2 linked regions of the Homo sapiens genome follow. The protein of the gene in region 1 interacts with the protein of each later gene in a pairwise test. Each region holds a gene or a part of one and is shown on either strand. Other genes may lie near its edges.

What was found. Proteins that work in one complex are often made in the same cells at the same time.
Region 2: the proteins of CD84 (region 1) and SH2D1B interact in binary tests that used the Homo sapiens proteins (3 or more experiments, as listed by UniProt).

The regions. Positions count from the first base shown.
Region 1 is NC_000001.11:160,576,240-160,584,499, reverse strand, and holds the start of CD84 (SLAM family member 5 isoform 2 precursor), read left to right. Parts: upstream 1-5,003; 5' UTR 5,004-5,062; coding exon 5,063-5,108; intron 5,109-8,260. UniProt on the Homo sapiens protein: Self-ligand receptor of the signaling lymphocytic activation molecule (SLAM) family.
Region 2 is NC_000001.11:162,394,740-162,402,654, reverse strand, and holds the end of SH2D1B (SH2 domain-containing protein 1B), read left to right. Parts: intron 1-3,567; coding exon 3,568-3,732; intron 3,733-5,339; coding exon 5,340-5,375; 3' UTR 5,376-7,387; downstream 7,388-7,915. UniProt on the Homo sapiens protein: Cytoplasmic adapter regulating receptors of the signaling lymphocytic activation molecule (SLAM) family such as CD84, SLAMF1, LY9 and CD244. In SLAM signaling seems to cooperate with SH2D1A/SAP.

The sequences.
Region 1 (8,260 bases):
CCAGTATCATACTGAATGGGGGAAAAAACTGGAAGCATTCCCTTTGAAAACCAGCACAAGGCAAGGATGCCCTCTCTTACCACTCCTATTCAACATAGTATTGGAAGTTCTGGCCAGGGCAATCAGGCAAGAGAAAGAAATACAGGGTATTCAGATAGGAAGAGAGGAAGTCAAATTGTCTCTGTTTGCAGATGACATGATTGTATATTTAGGAAACCTCATTGTCTCAGCCCAAAACCTCCTTAAGCTGATAAGCAACTTCAGCAAAGTCTCAGGATACAAAATCAATGTGCGAAAATGACAAGCATTCCTATACACCAATAACAGACAACAGAGAGCCAAATCATGAGTGAACTCTCATTCACAATTGCTACAAAGAGAATAAAATACCTAGGAATACAACTTACAAGGGATATGAAGGACCTCTTCAAAAACCACTGCTCAAGGAAATAAAAGAGGACACAAACAAATGGAAAAACCTTGCATGCTCATGGATAGGAAGAATCAGTATCATGAAAATGGCCTTACTGCCCAAAGTAATTTATAGATTCAATGCTCTCCCCATCCAGCTACCACTGACTTTCTTCACAGAATTGGAAAAAACTATTTTAAACTTCATATGGAACCAAAAAAAAGCCCACATAGTCAAGAAAATCCTGGGCAAGAAGAACAAAGCTGGAGGCATCATGCTACCTGACTTCAAACTATACTACAAGTCTACAGTAACCAAAACAGCATGGCACTGGTATCAAAACAGATATATAGACCAATGGAACAGAACAGAGGCCTCAGAAATAACACCACACATTTACTGCCATCTGATCTTTGACAAACCTGACACACACAAGAAATGGGGAAAGGATTCCCTATTTAATAAATGGTGTTGGGAAAGCTGGCTGGCCATATGCAGAAAACTGAAACTGGACCCCTTCCTTACACATTATACAAAAATCAACTGAAGATTGATCAAAGACTTAAACATAAGACCTAGGACCATAAAAATCCTAGAAGAAAACCTAGACAATACCATTCAGGACATAGGCATGGGAAAAGGCTTCATGTCTAAAACACCAAAAACAATGGCAAAAAAAGTTAAAATTGACAAATGGGATCTAATTAAACTAAAGAGCTTCTGCACAGCGAAAGAAACTATCATCATCATCAGAGTGAACAGGCAACCTACAGAATGGGAGAAGATTTTTGCAATCTGTCCATCTGACAAAGGGCTAATATCCAGAAGCTACAAAGAACTGAAAGAAATTTACAAGAAAAAAGGCAACAACCCCATCAAAAAATGGGCAAAGGATATGAACAGACACTTTTCAAAAGAAGACATTTACGCAGCCAAGAGATGTATGAAAAAATGCTTATCATCACTGGTCATTAGAGAAATGCAAATGAAAACCACAATGAGACCATCTCATGCCAGTTAGAATGGCAATCATTAAAATGTCAGGAAACAACAGATGCTGGAGAGGTTGTGGAAAAATAGGAACACTTTTACACTGTTGGTGGGAGTGTAAATTAGTTCAACCATTGTGGAAGACAGTGTGGCAATTCCTAAAGGATCTAGAACTAGAAATACCATTCGACCCAGCAATCCCATTACTGGGCATATATCCAAAGGATTATAAATCAATCTACGATAAAGACACATGCACACATATTTATTTATTTATTTATTTGCAGCACTATTCACAATAGCAAAGACTTGGACAAATGTCCATCAATGATAGACTGGATTAAGAAAATGTGGCACATATACACCATGGAATACTATGCAGACATAAAAAAGGATGAGTTCATGTCCTTTGCGGGGACATGGATGAAGCTGGAAACCATCATTCTCAGCAAACTATCACAAGATCAGAAAACCAAACAACTCATGTTCTCACTGATAAGTGGGAGTTGAACAATGAGAACACATGGACACAGGGAGGAGAACATCACACACTGGGGCCTGTGGGGGATGGGGGGGGCTAGAGGAAGGATAGCATTAGGAGAAATACCTAATGTAGGTGACGGGTGGATGGGTGCAGCAAACAACCATGGCACGTGTATACCTATGTAACAAAACTGCACGTTCTGCACATGTAATCCAGAACTTAAAGTAGAATAATAAAAAAATTAAGTTACATAAACGTAAAATAAAATACACAGTATTAAAAAAAATCTTGTAATACCATTTCCACATAAGAAATTCATCTCTCCAGTAAATTACATATCACCATAAACAAAAATATACAGGAACTGAGAGAAATCAATAACTCTACTGTTTTGTGCAAATGCAGTTGAGTTTATGATCACAACTGCCCTTATCTATAAGTCTGCTAACCCTTGAGCCTTGAAGGGAAAAGATAAACACCAGCAGCCAGTGTTTTAATTGTACCACAAGAAGGCCTGAACAACAAGAACATTTTTCCTGCATTGGTTTCATCAATACCCTGTCATTGAAGTCAGGAAATACCTTGCCAGTAAGGGACTGCGTTTTAAAGTTATTTTGATATTGGACAGTGCCCCTGGCCACCCAGAGCCCCAGGAGTTCAACAGCAAAGGCACTGAAATGGTATACTTCTCCCCAGACATGTTTCTAATTCAGCCTCTAGAACAGGGGGTCATAAGGACCTTTAAGGCTCATTATATACGTACTCTATGGAAAGAATTGTCAATGCCTAGGAAGACAACCCCAGGAGAGGGCCATCATGAAAGTCTAGAAAGATTACACCATTAAAGATGCTATCATTGTTGCAGAAAAAGTGGTGAAAGCCATTAAGCCTGAGACAATAAACTCTGCTTGAGGAAACTGTGTCCAAATGTTGTGCGTGACTTCACAGGATTTATGACAGAGCTAATCAAGGAAATTATGAAAGATATTGTGGATATGGCAAAAAAAAAAGTTGGGGTAAAAGGTTTCAAGAAATAAATCTTGGCAAAATTCAAGAGCTAATAGACACCACACCAGAGGAATTAATGGAAGATGACTTGATGGAGAAGAATGCATCTAAGCCAGGATCAAACAATGCGGAAGAAAACATAGAAGCAGCAGTGCCAGAAAACAAGCTGACATTAGACAGTCTGACAGAAGGCTTCTGACTATTCGGGACCGCTTTTGACTTCTTTTATGATATGGGCCCATCTATGGTATGATACAGGCACTAAAACTAAAACAAATGGTAGAAGTAAGAAGGGGTACCATATAGAAATATTTTTAGAGAAATGAACAAGCAAAAAAGTCAGACAAAAATTAAATATACTTCTGAAAAGTTACACCGACTGTGCCTGTCTCTTCCACCTTCCCTTCAACCTCCTCTATCTCTTCTTCCCCAGGGACCCCTGAGACAGCAAGACCAACTCCTCCTTATCCTCCTCCTCCTTAGCCTACTTAACATGAAGATGATGAGGATAAAGACCTTTATGATGATCTAATTCCACTTAATGAACAGTAAATATATTTTGTCTTCATCATGATTTTCTTAATACCATTTTATTTTCTCTAGCTTACTTTCCTGCAAGAATATGGTAAACAATGTATATGACACATAGAATATGTGTTAATCAACTGTGTTGTTGGTAAGGCTTCCTGTCAACAGTAGGCTATTAGTAGTTGAGTTTAGGGGTGTCAAAAGTTATGCATGGATTTTCGACTGGTTGAGGGGACAGCACTCCAAACCCCTGCATTGTTCAAGGGTCAACTATATTCAGTATTATGTAAGTATATATGGGAAATGATCAGCAGGATTATTTAATGTGTGACTCTAGAGGCCAGGTTACCTAGGAATGAGCTAGCTAGCATGAGGACTCGTCTCAGTTAAAAAAAAGCTCCTCCAGGTCTCAGGGGTAGTGTCCCCAGCCTTCTCATTACTCCCCAAAACAGCTGAGTCAAACTTAAATATTCATTTCTATCCCCATTCCCAGACAACATCTCCCATACACACATTACACAATCACTCTTATTCTTGTTAACCAAGATGAAGACCCTCTACAAGAAATAGTCCTGTTACATCTAGCTCAACTCCACCTAAGCCTGCCTCTGCACCTGCTGTCTCTCATGCCCAGGAGTCACAGTCTTTGCCAAGTGACACTGCTGGCTTTTAACTCAGTTCCCTAATTCACTGTGTGATATAGGGAAAAGTCACTTCCTCTCCTTCTGAGCCAGTTTCTCCATCTGCAAAATAGATTCAATAGTCTAAAAATCCCTTTTGACTTCATTTTTATCAAACACTTTTTGTGTCCCTAATAAGGTGTGATCATAATCATAATGTTTCATGATGATATCATGGAATTATACATAATTATATGTATGTAGTTATACTATATTATATATTAATATATTATATAATTATATATTATTGTATCATATATAAATATAATTATATATTATTAATATAATACTTAATATTGATTATGTTAAATAATATCACATGTTGATTATACATTATAATACATAATCATGTACTTGTGATCATTTTATATAACTATAATTATGTAATTTTAATTGCTATGTTTTTTTAAGCTCCTACCATATGTCAAAACATTTTTCCTCTTTCATATCCCCCACCGCCATTCGCCTAATAATGGTAATTCATTCTTTGAGCCTGTCTCAGGTTGGTTGTCAGTTTCTTTAGGAAGCCTACTCCAACTTTTCTTAGCCTGAGTTAGATGCCCCTATTCCTCTCATAGTTCCCTGTATTTTTCCTATTGCAATGCTTACTACATTAAATTGGAACTGCTTATAGAGTTGTTGATTACTCCAAAAAAGAGTATAAATGCCATGAAAGGAGGGTGATCAATTGTTTTGTTGCTCTGTATATTGCCAGCACCCAGAAGAGGGCCTGGCACATAGTAGGCACACAATAAATATGTGTTGAATAAATAATTAATGCTAGGCACTTTAAATTGGAAAAAACTAGCACAGTAATACAAAGACCAATGTTAACTAAATCAGTTAACATGCACTTCCTTTCTTAAATGTCGTTATAAAAAGGAGGAAGAAAACTCAAGTGAAACTGACTCTGCTAGAACAGTGCCGTGCTTTTCCACAGAAGGTTAGACCCTGAAAGAGATGGCTCAGCACCACCTATGGATCTTGCTCCTTTGCCTGCAAACCTGTGAGTTCTGACCCTTGCTGATCGCCTCCTAGTTTTCCATAAAGTTTTAAAAATTGCCCTTAAGGAAGACATTGAACTGTCTTTTTGATCTGTGTTTAGCAGAACACCCTGGGTCTCAGTATCTACTGTACTCAACAGGATCCAACTGGCTGGGGAGAGACTTAAAATTCAAACCTAAGTGTTTAGGTTCAGCTTTAAAGTTTATATTACTGAGTTATATTTCTGAGATCTGGAGATCTCAGTTTCCAAAGGTCTGAGGCAAATCCTTCTCAGAGGAATCAGCACTTGGTAAACCCACCCAAAAAGCCTGGCAAAAGAAAGATCTTCTAAAAGCTTGAATGACTTACAAGCAATTTCTTCTTGGCATTCAATTGTGATGGCGTTTGAGAGAGAAAAATGTCTTTCCTAATTATAGTTGATTGTTCTATCAGGTTAGAGTGATGGATGACTCATCGTTATCATTGTTGAGCCTCATCTCTATAAACTCCCTTTATTTTCAAAACACAGAGCTATTACTCTGCTTTTATCCTCAACAAACTCTAAAATAAATGAGGAAGAGATTACTATCCCATTTTTTACAAATAGTCTCAAAAAAGAGTTGGAGAACTTGAATTAAAAACCCTATTTTTCTTACTTATGGCATAACAGTAAACTAAAAGAACGACATGAATATTGATTGTTATTTGTACAAAGAAAATTGTAACATTAACATAGATCTGGGAGTGCTGTGTCATTGTACATGTTATCTCCTTAAATACAAACAATTGCTCTAACAGAAATTTACTATGTTTGGAACTTCTAGATCTACTTCTAGTATCTCTTGCCAGTTCTGAAAATGCACTAGCAGAATTCTGGCATGAGTTAGAACCCTGGGAACCTAGTACGTTTGGATTTTCTGTAAAGGTAGAATCAATGCACTGTGATCTCTCTGGTTTCTTTGGCCATTTCAAGCTATGGCTCCTTTAATTTGAACTTCATGGAGATTGTAACCACTAGTCAGACCAAATTTTTGGAGCCTCTGCTGGTCGCTCTAGAATGGCAGACAGAAAATGCAAGTAGATGAGGAATGGTACTAGGGATGTCCCTAATCTTCCAGAGAGAGACCAGACAAGGTAGCATTTGATACCACTTAATTTGCAAAACATTCTACAATGTTTATGCCTACATTCTTATGTCATCCATATGAAAACCATTGAGATGAGCAAGATAGACGTTATTAATCCCATTATGCAAGAAAAATAATAAATTAAGATTTAGGGGTTTAAAAATTCACCTGAAATTTCACTACCTAAATTGGTAGAGCTGGAAATAGACATTGGTTTTTCTAATTCCAAGGTTAATCCCAATCCCATTGGTTCTTCTTTCTGCTCCACCTGACCTCTTCACTCATTGCTTTCAAATTTTTGATGCTCTTCAAAAGGTTAATACCTGCTAAGATAAAAGGTAGCTCTAGGATACACTTCTTTCATCTACTGAAACTGAAATAAAGTTGTCAAATCAGCTAGTAGTGAATTGTTTACAAGTTTTGTGACCTAGACGAAGTTACATTCCTCCTCTGACTCTTGTTTCAGCTTCAAAATGGGGAGGTATTAATACAGTAGAATTGTTTTGAGAATCAAAATGATGATAATGCATGTACAACACTTGCCATGGTACCTGAATATAGTAAGTGTTTAACAGATATCAGCTAATGCTACTATTTTTCACACTCGCTTTTCATTCATTATTAGGAAGAGCCATGGCTTTACCACACAGAGATCCTGGGCAGGACTCCTCTGTCAGGGAATTGTCCAAGGAACATAAACAGGAGAAAAGGTGGTGGGAGTTTGAGCTTAGGTGTTGGTTGTCTGGGTTCTGGAAAAGGAAACTAGGAGTGAGATATTCATTTCATCAAGGATCCATGAAAGGGGAATGGGAGCTTGTTTTTATAAAAGTGAAGCCAGGAGTACTTTTTACATACTGTCCACCTTTACTGAATTATCTGTTTGCCTCTTAAGGATTATTCTGCAAACCTTTTCTGAGCACAAAAATATACCATGAATTCCTCCTGCTGCTGTTCCTGGTAGAGGTAGTCCCTTACATTCAGTATTGGGCTTAGGAGTCTACACTTTACACATTTCCCTGGAATTCAGAGCAGTTGAAGAGGCTGAGAAGCAGTGGAGAGATGCAGGGAGAAATCCCCATTTCCCCTCAGAAATCACCGACATAAGGAAAGTCTGAGTGTGCAAACTTATGACTGTTCCATGTTGGAAAAGTTTTCTCTGAGTCAAAATTCACAGTCTTATGCTCTGATGCCAACTTTCTGATCATGACTTTGGAAACACCATGACTCTGACTGTCTCTCCACATACCCTGGGAGACACTCCCACTCTGAGGGTAGGAGATGAAGGAGTCCACCAGTTTTAATCCTTGCCCACCCCCTCTACATATACTGTCTCATACTCTTAATTCTTCCTTTTCTCTGCCCCATTCGTATTTCTATTTCTTCAACTCCCTGTCTTATCTCCCATCAATAATAGTAATAAGTAACCATTTATGGAGCAATCACTGCATATTCAGCATTACTCTAAGTAGTCTACAGTTATTATTTTGTTTAATCCTTACAATACACTATGAGATAGATACGGTTTATGTGCACATATACAGATGAAAGCATTGATACACAGAGAGTCAAAGGCCACTTAACCAAAAAGTGAAAGAAGTAGAATTTAAGCTTCAGAGTCCTTAGACTTCACCTCTGAGTCATGCTGCCTCCACCCACATTGATGCTGAAGTGGAGTAAATTACTCTCCCTACTATTAATGTTTGGGAATATGTCAGTAAAGAGTGATGATTTATTTATTTCTGTCAAGACAGGATTATTCGGATAGAATCTGTGCCTTTCTCTATACCCACCCACAGAGGAGGAAGGAGCTGTTGGCAGGTCCTTGCCAATAACGGAAGTTTAGGCAGGGCAGTGAGGCAGAATACCCAAGCAAACAACCATCTCCAGACATATTTCAAATACCGTTCACTTTAATATTATTCAAATGTGATTTGAATTAGTTTCTTTAAACAAATAAAAGTCCAATATCAGCATGATGTTGATGTCTTGTTGGATGTTAAACATGGTCATGGGCATTTCAGCAGTTGAGACCTAAAATTCTAAGAAA
Region 2 (7,915 bases), 1.8 Mb from region 1:
CTGTGCGAAAGCATTCTAAAAAGGAAAGCACAATGCAGAGATGAGAGTCAGATCGAGTTAACCTGGTTTTTCCCTGAAGAGAAATAGGAAGGTTCTAGGCTTGGGTTCTACTTTTTTTGTTGTTGTTTTGTTTTTTTTAGACGGAGTCTCGCTCTGTCGTCCAGGCTGGAGTGCAGTGGTGCGATCTCGGCTCACTGCAACCTCCGCCTCCCGGGTTCAAGCGATTCTCCTGCCTCAGCCCCCGCCCCCCCAAGTAGCTGGGACTACAGGCGCGCGCCACCACCCCCAGCTAATTTTTGTATTTTCAGTAGAGAAGGGTTTTCGCCGTGTTAGACAGGATGGTCTCGATCTCCTGACCTTGTGATCCGCCGGCCTCAGCCTCCCAGACTGCTGGGATTACAGGCGTGAGCCACCGCACCCAGCTGGGTTCTACTTTTGAATAACCCTCACTGTTATTCCACTGTGGCTCCTCCACTGGCCAAACACACCAGCCTGGACTCCAAGCAAAACCTCCGTTGAATTAGAAGACTCAACAATGATGCAAGATGGAGCTAGAAAGGGACGGTGGAAAGAGGTCAGAGTGTTTAGGGAGTCAAGTGTGCCCAATAGTTGTACGAAAATATAGTGGGAAGCATCAGATAGCTGAAAGTCTTAGGGTTTGTTTAATTTTTCTGGTTTACTGAGAGCTAAGCAGAAAAACATTTTGCTTCTTTTAAATTTAGTTCTCTGGCTTAAGAAGTAGAGTATAATAAACATAACTGCTAACAGAGAATCCTAAAATAATCTTTCTCAAACACTTACATATAAGGTTAAGGAGACTACAGATTTCTAAGAATCTTCAGTATATTAATGTTTACTCTGAATATCTGAAAGAGACTAGAATATAAAATGATCCCCAAACACCTCACTTATACTATTTTTCTTTTGCTATAGAGGACATTATTGAGGCAGTTGACAAAATTTGAATAAATTCAAATTTTGAATAAGATTAACAAATAGTACTGTATCCAGGTTAATTTCCTGATTTTAATCATTGTAGTATGGTTATGTAATATCCTTACTTTTGAAGAAATACTGAAGTATTTAAAGGGATATTATGTCTGCAAATTAACTTTGAAAATAGCTTATATATATGTGTATATATACATGCACAATATATGTGTATATATTTGGAAAGAGAATAAAAAGCAAATATAATAAAATGTTAACATTGGGGTGTGGGTGAAATATATGGTAATTTTTAAAAATTATTTTTGCAACTTTGCTATGTCTGAAATAATTTCAAGATAAAATGTCTTATAAAAAGCAACTTATTTTAAGACTTTTTTTTCTGTTTATTCTTTGGGAAATTCTGGATAATTCCTCAGTACCCTGTTTTGTCTCTTGTGTGGACAAAATAGAGGGAGACATCCAAATCATTTGTAACTCAGACACAAAGAGGCGTTTCACTGGGGAGCAGCTTTGAGCTTAGAAGCCTGCAGTGATGCCTTTTGTTGAAATGACTGCATTAAAGGAACCTCCTTGCAGATGACTTTGATGTCAGCCTGTACCTCTAATACAGAGGTTAATCAGGCGCATATCAGAAAACCTTCTGATCACCAACCCCTTTCTCTAGTCTGACTTGGTGGCCATATGAAAACCACAGTGACGATCAAGAAAACCAAATACACAAAAGTAGAGGAAGAAAATTCATGTGTGTGTGGGTGTGTAAGACAGAGTCTTGCTGTCACCCAGACTGGAGTGCAGTGGCGTGATCTCGGCTCACTGCAACTTCCGCGTCCTGGTTCAAGCGATTCTCCTGGCTCAACCTCCCGAGTAGCTGGGATTACAGGCGTCTGCTACCATGCCCAGCTAATTTTTTGTATTTTTAGTAGAGACGGAGTTTTGCCATGTTGACCAGGCTGGTCTCAAACTCCTGACCTCAAGTGATCCACCCACCTTGGCCTCCCAAAGGGCTGGGATTACAGGCATGAGCCACTGAGCCTAGCCAGAAAATTCTTTTCATTTTAAAATTATTTCTAAAAGGTTATATTAGAAAATAGTGCTTGGTGGGCCAGGCATGGTGGCTCCCGCCTGTAATCCCAGTACTTTGGGAGGCTGAGGCAGGCAGATCATGAGGTCAGGAGATCGAGACCATCCTGGCTAACACAGTGAAACCCCATCTCTACTAAAAATACAAAAAAAAAAAAAAAAAAAATTAGCCAGGTATGGTGATGGTGCTTGTAATCCCGGCTACTTGGGAGGCTGAGGCAGGAGAATGGCATGAACCCGGGAGGCGGAACTTGCAGTGAGCTGAGATCACACCACTGCACTCCAGCCTGGGCCACAGAGTGAGACTCCGTCTCAAAAAAAAAAAAAAAAAAAAAAAGTACGTGGTGTATAGCTGGTAAACAGAAAACATCTATTTACAACTTAACTGAGTTGTGTTGCCATTCCCACTTTCTATTTACATTGGGACTTTTTTGGTTTTGTTTTGCCCACATGGAGATTGTGAATTCATCAAGTATACAAATTGTGTATTTTAAATTCATAAAGTATACAAAATGCATATTTTAAAGACATGGAATCAACCTAAATGCCCATCAGTGATAGACTGGATAAATAAAATGTGGTACATATACACCATGGAATACTAAGCAGCCTAACTGTTCTCCAAATTTGAAAAACCAAATCAGAGGCTGGTGGTTCACCTTTTAAAGCCAATAAAGAGAACCAGCCCCAGCTTGAGATGGAGAGGATCGAAATTAGAGTTGGAAGCATTTATGGTAAAATCTCTCACATGGGGATCAGAAAGGAGCTTAGGTCAAAAAAGAATGAAATCATGTCCTTTGCAGGGACATGGATGGAGCTGGAGGCCATTATGTTTAGCAAACTAATGCAGGAACAGAAAACCAAATACTGCATGTTCTCACTTGTAAGTGGGAGCTGAATGATAAGAACACATGGACACACAGAGGAGAACAACACACACAGGGGCCTGTTGGAGGGCTCAGGGTGGGAGGAGGGAGAGGATCAGGAAGAATAGCTAGTGAATGCTGGGCTTGATACCTGGGTGATGGGATGGTCTGTGCAGCAAACCACTACGGCACACGTTTACCTATGTAACAAACCTGTACATCCTGCACATGTACCCCTGAACTTAAAATAACAGTTGGAATTTTTTTTAATTGCATTTTTGCATTCCCATCAGAAGTCCACTTCCGATAGTCCCTTAAGATAGCAAAGCCCGCCTGTAGGTACAGACGTAAGCCCTTACAGGGGTACCCTTCACAGTGTATCTGCGAGAACTGCCCCAGGTAAACTTCCCAAGGATGGGGTTCACTTGATACTATGGACTGCGCTGGGATCCCTTGATTGCAAATCCTCTTTACTCAGAGTGGCTCAAGTCAGAGGTTGGTCTTAGAAATGAGAGTTTCTGTGAACTGGGAGTGGTGTGAGCTCCAGCCACTTGTTTTCAGTTTTTCAGCTCATAGAAGGGCAGCCCTGAAAACCCACTGCTTTGAGAAGTGTCACATTTCACACGCAATTGCATGATAATGAGTGATTTCCTTTCTTGTATTTTTGCAGACTGCAGAAGGTTCTCCAAAACAGGTCTTTCCAAGCCTAAAGGAACTGATCTCCAAATTTGAAAAACCAAATCAGGGGATGGTGGTTCACCTTTTAAAGCCAATAAAGAGAACCAGCCCCAGCTTGAGATGGAGAGGATTGAAATTAGAGTTGGAAACATTTGTGGTAAAATCTCTCACGTGGGGGTCAGAAAGCAATCTTAATCCTATTTCCACCAATGCCTTACTTTGTAAACTCAATACAGACAAATGCTCTTTTCTGTGACATTATCTCTAAAAAGCTTCATCCTACTAAGAGCAATTTCCATTTTGTTGAGAAGTGCTGTCTTTTAGTCCCTGAGGGCCAAGACAGAGAGCTTGCTGCGTTTGCAGCCAGGATAGCAAGAGTGGTTCCTGGGCAGACAGCTGACTTCAAATTCATTCTGTGACCTTGTGCAGACGATTCAAGTTTGAGAATAAATGGGCAAATGGGCAGATTTTCAAATGAGAAAATCACTCTAGCCCTTCAAGCCCTCCCCAAAGCGTATACTGTTACACTTTGCTCAATATTTGCTAAGCATTCATTTATAAAGTGCTGGGTGTCAAATTATGTCAGATACATTTTTAAAGGCATTAAGCCGTAGTGGAAAATGAGAGATGGTCAGTAAATCTGAGTGCAGAGAATCCCTGCCTAAGCCTCTCAAATTATATCATGAGCAGCTACTCTTCCTTACCCACACTCTTGAAATCTGCTCTCAGTAAAGAATTTACTATCAGTTGCAATGTTGTTTGAATTTAGCTCAGACTTCCAGAAACACTTAGGTCTTAATCCTGTTTTCCCATGTTGGAATGTGTGGTTATATTCTCAGTGAAAGGGATGGCAGTTATCAGTGGCAGGTGATGGGATGAGATCAGATATCCTCCCTAGGAGAGGGACAGAGGACAGAGAGTTCTCTGGGAGCCTGCAATCACTCCATCCCCATTCTACTCTGTCTGCGGCAAAGTCACCCTTTAGGCTGCCATAGCCGGCTTCTCATTTCCCCAGCAAGGCTAAGCATAAAATACAACTCCCTTCCCTACCATTGTGTCCCTGTCCCCCCATCCCCATGAAGGGCAGTGTGTACTCATGGACACAAAAAAATCACTTTCTATAGGTCCAGCTGCAGATGTAGTCCCACAGCTACTTTCCCCCCCAAATTTATAGAATAAAAAGTATACAGTGTGGCAGATCTAGAAACCCAGGAATGTATCTGTGCTGCAGCCCTTAGGCAAACCCAGATGAGTTGCTGGGACTGGTTGGGGTGGTGGTAGCATTTGTCTCAACAATGAGAAAAGAATCATAAATCCCAGGAGGAGAACCCTCAGAAATCTTCCCCAAGACCTGGGCATGAATCTCACTCCATCAGTTTTCCATGCCGGGTCAGTGCTGACACAGCAGGCTCCAAAATTCTCAGCTACTGAAGAGGAAATATTCCCCATCAACCTCTTCCTCCCATTCCCATTGCTTCCTTAGAAGAAGCTTCAGATGTTCTTACTCCAAGGGAGGTGCAGATTTCTTGCTGGTGAATGGAGACACTTGTGCTGGAAGGTCTGAGGCTTGGCTTATAAAGAGATCTCCTATTTTGTTAGGAGGGCTCCCTGTAGTACCCCAGCCTTTAAAGATACAACTTTCAGGTGGCATCAACATGGCTCTGTGCCTGGGGAGGGGTCTTCTTTCCTTTGAGTGGGGTTGTTTGATATGACTTCTGGGTGTGGTCTCATGGCTGGTCTTCTGCTTTTTTTTTCCCTCCAAAGAACAGTAACAGCGATTATGTGGATGTCTTGCCTTGAAGATAAGGCTGCCGGACAAAGCAAGTTGAAGAGATGAGTAACAGTTCTCACTGATGACCCACTTCTGCAGGCATAGGTCCAGAGCACCAAACTCTAGTGGACAATTCAGACTCTCCTGGTTGTGTAACTGAAGATGTTCTGCCCACCAGCACCAGAGGTCACTCTCCACATCCCCGCCTCCCAGACATATACCAGGAGCAATTTCAAAACCCTCTCCAGTTTCACTCTTCTTTCTTGGAATGGGACAGCCTGAACATTTTCCCTTTGACTTGTTAAAGGTACCACCCTACATCATGGTTGACACCCTCCTTTGGACCATGCAGTCAGAGGGGCAGCTTTATACAGAGGAGGGGCACACTTGTCTGTGAGTTTGAAGCCCTGAGTTCCAGTCCTGTGGCTGTGTGACTTTGAACACGTTTCTGCCCATCTCCAGGTCTTAGTTTCTTTGTCTCTGTGGTTGGGTGGGATGATAAACATTGCCCCAGTCTCTCTGTTGAGCCTGCTTGTGTCAGGTGAAGGTGAGGGATCGGGAGTGATGGAGATGCATACAGATCAGCACCTTCTCTGTACCTGCTGGACCCCCATGTGCACCCTTCTCCCTCCAGCCTGGGCTACTCTCCTCCTGGTTCTTTCTAATCTTAAACTTCCTGGTGAGCATTGCCCCAGCCACACTTTCTCCCTGGTTTTGCTTAATTCCACTTATGCATCAGTCATTTCAACAGCATGAATGTGGTTCTGTACAGTGATGTATGTGGAGATTTCTAAAATATTCTATGTGTGATTTCTGTTCCCAACTAGGTTCTAAGTGCCATCAAAGCACGGTTGGGTCTCCCTTGTATCTTCCACAGTGTGTAGAAATTTGTGCTGCCCAGAGCTGTGCCTAGTTCATAGAAACTGACTGGAAGCACATTGCTGAGGGAGGTTTGTTGAATTGGTTTTTAAGGTTTACTGAAATTGATTTGCTGAATTTTTCTGCTAGTTCAAAATGTGAATTAGGACCTGGTCAGTTTGAAATATACCAAATTCTATGCCCTTTCTCTTACCTATCATCAAATTGTAGTAATGTATTTCACCCCACTGGACTTATCTTCAGAGTTTTAAAAGAGAGGAGCTCTCGACTTAGAGGTAATATGAACAGATGAACAGACACTGTGGCTGGAGCCCCAAAGTGTGGAGCATTGTGAGATTTGGGGTCACAGCAATTTATGGCTACTATTCCCTGGGTCTGGTAGGTAGGACAAATGTCCTCTTTTACTTTTCAAAACTGGCTTAGGTATTCATGGACCTTGATTCTTCTATATACATTTTATAATAAATACGTGAAATTGCTTAAAACCTCTTTTTGGAATTTTTAATGAACTTGCAACAAATTTGTAAATAGGAGAGAACTGACGTTCTTGTGATGTTTTCCCATGCATAAACATGCCACATCCATGTTCTTGGGTCATCTTTTTTGCCCTTTCATGGAGTCATAAATTTTCCCAACTGAAGTCTTGTATATTCTGTTAGATTAATTCCTATTTCTAGTTGCTGTAAATGATATCTTATGTTTTATTACATTTCTAATAGGATATGGTGTTGGTGAAATGTTAACCCTCTCATTAGATCTACTAGTTTACCTGTTGATTCTATTGTGTTTTCTATGTAAATGATTTTGTCAGCTATAAATAATAACATTTTATTTTCTCTTTCCTTGCAATACCTATGCTCATTTATTTTTTATGTTTACCCATTGGTTAGGGCCTCCTGTATACATTAAACAGTTCATAGTCATGATAGTGAGTATTCTTACACTGTTCCCAGTATTACAGGGAATGCTTAGAAATTTTCTTTATTTAAACATTATGTTTGTTGTAGCCTTGTTAAAGGCTATTTTATAATTTTTACTAGAAATATTTTGACATTTATTGTGATTTTTTTCTATCTCTAATCTATTGAGATAGTCACATTCCTTTTGTCTTCACTCCATTATAAAGGTAAGTTACCTTAATAAAATTGTTGATATCATTTCATCCTTGCATTGCTTCACTTGATAATATTTTATTATTTTTCATAAACTGTGGAATTTGGTAAGTTAATATTTCATTTAAGATTTTTGCATTAAAACTCATAAACCAAATAGGACTATAATTTACTGAATCATGGTTACACTGTTCATATAAAGCGAAGAAAAGTCTTTTTCCTTTTACCATTTTCTGCAACAACTCTTCAGGTAAAGATTATTTGTTCTGGGCTGGGTGTGGTGGCTCACACCTGTAATCCCAGCACTTTGGGAGGCCGAGGTGGGGGGATCACTTGAGGTCAGGAGCTCAAGATCAGCCTGGCCAACATGGTGAAACCCTGTCTCTACAAAAATACAAAAATGTAGCCAGGTGTGGTGGCACACGCCTATAATCCCAGCTACTTAGGAGGATGAGGTGGGAGAATCGCTTGAACCCGGGAGGTGGAGGTTGCAGTGAGCCAAGATCATGTCAGGGCACTCCAGCCTGGGTGACAGAGTGAGACCCTATCTCAAAAAATATATATATAGTAAATAAATA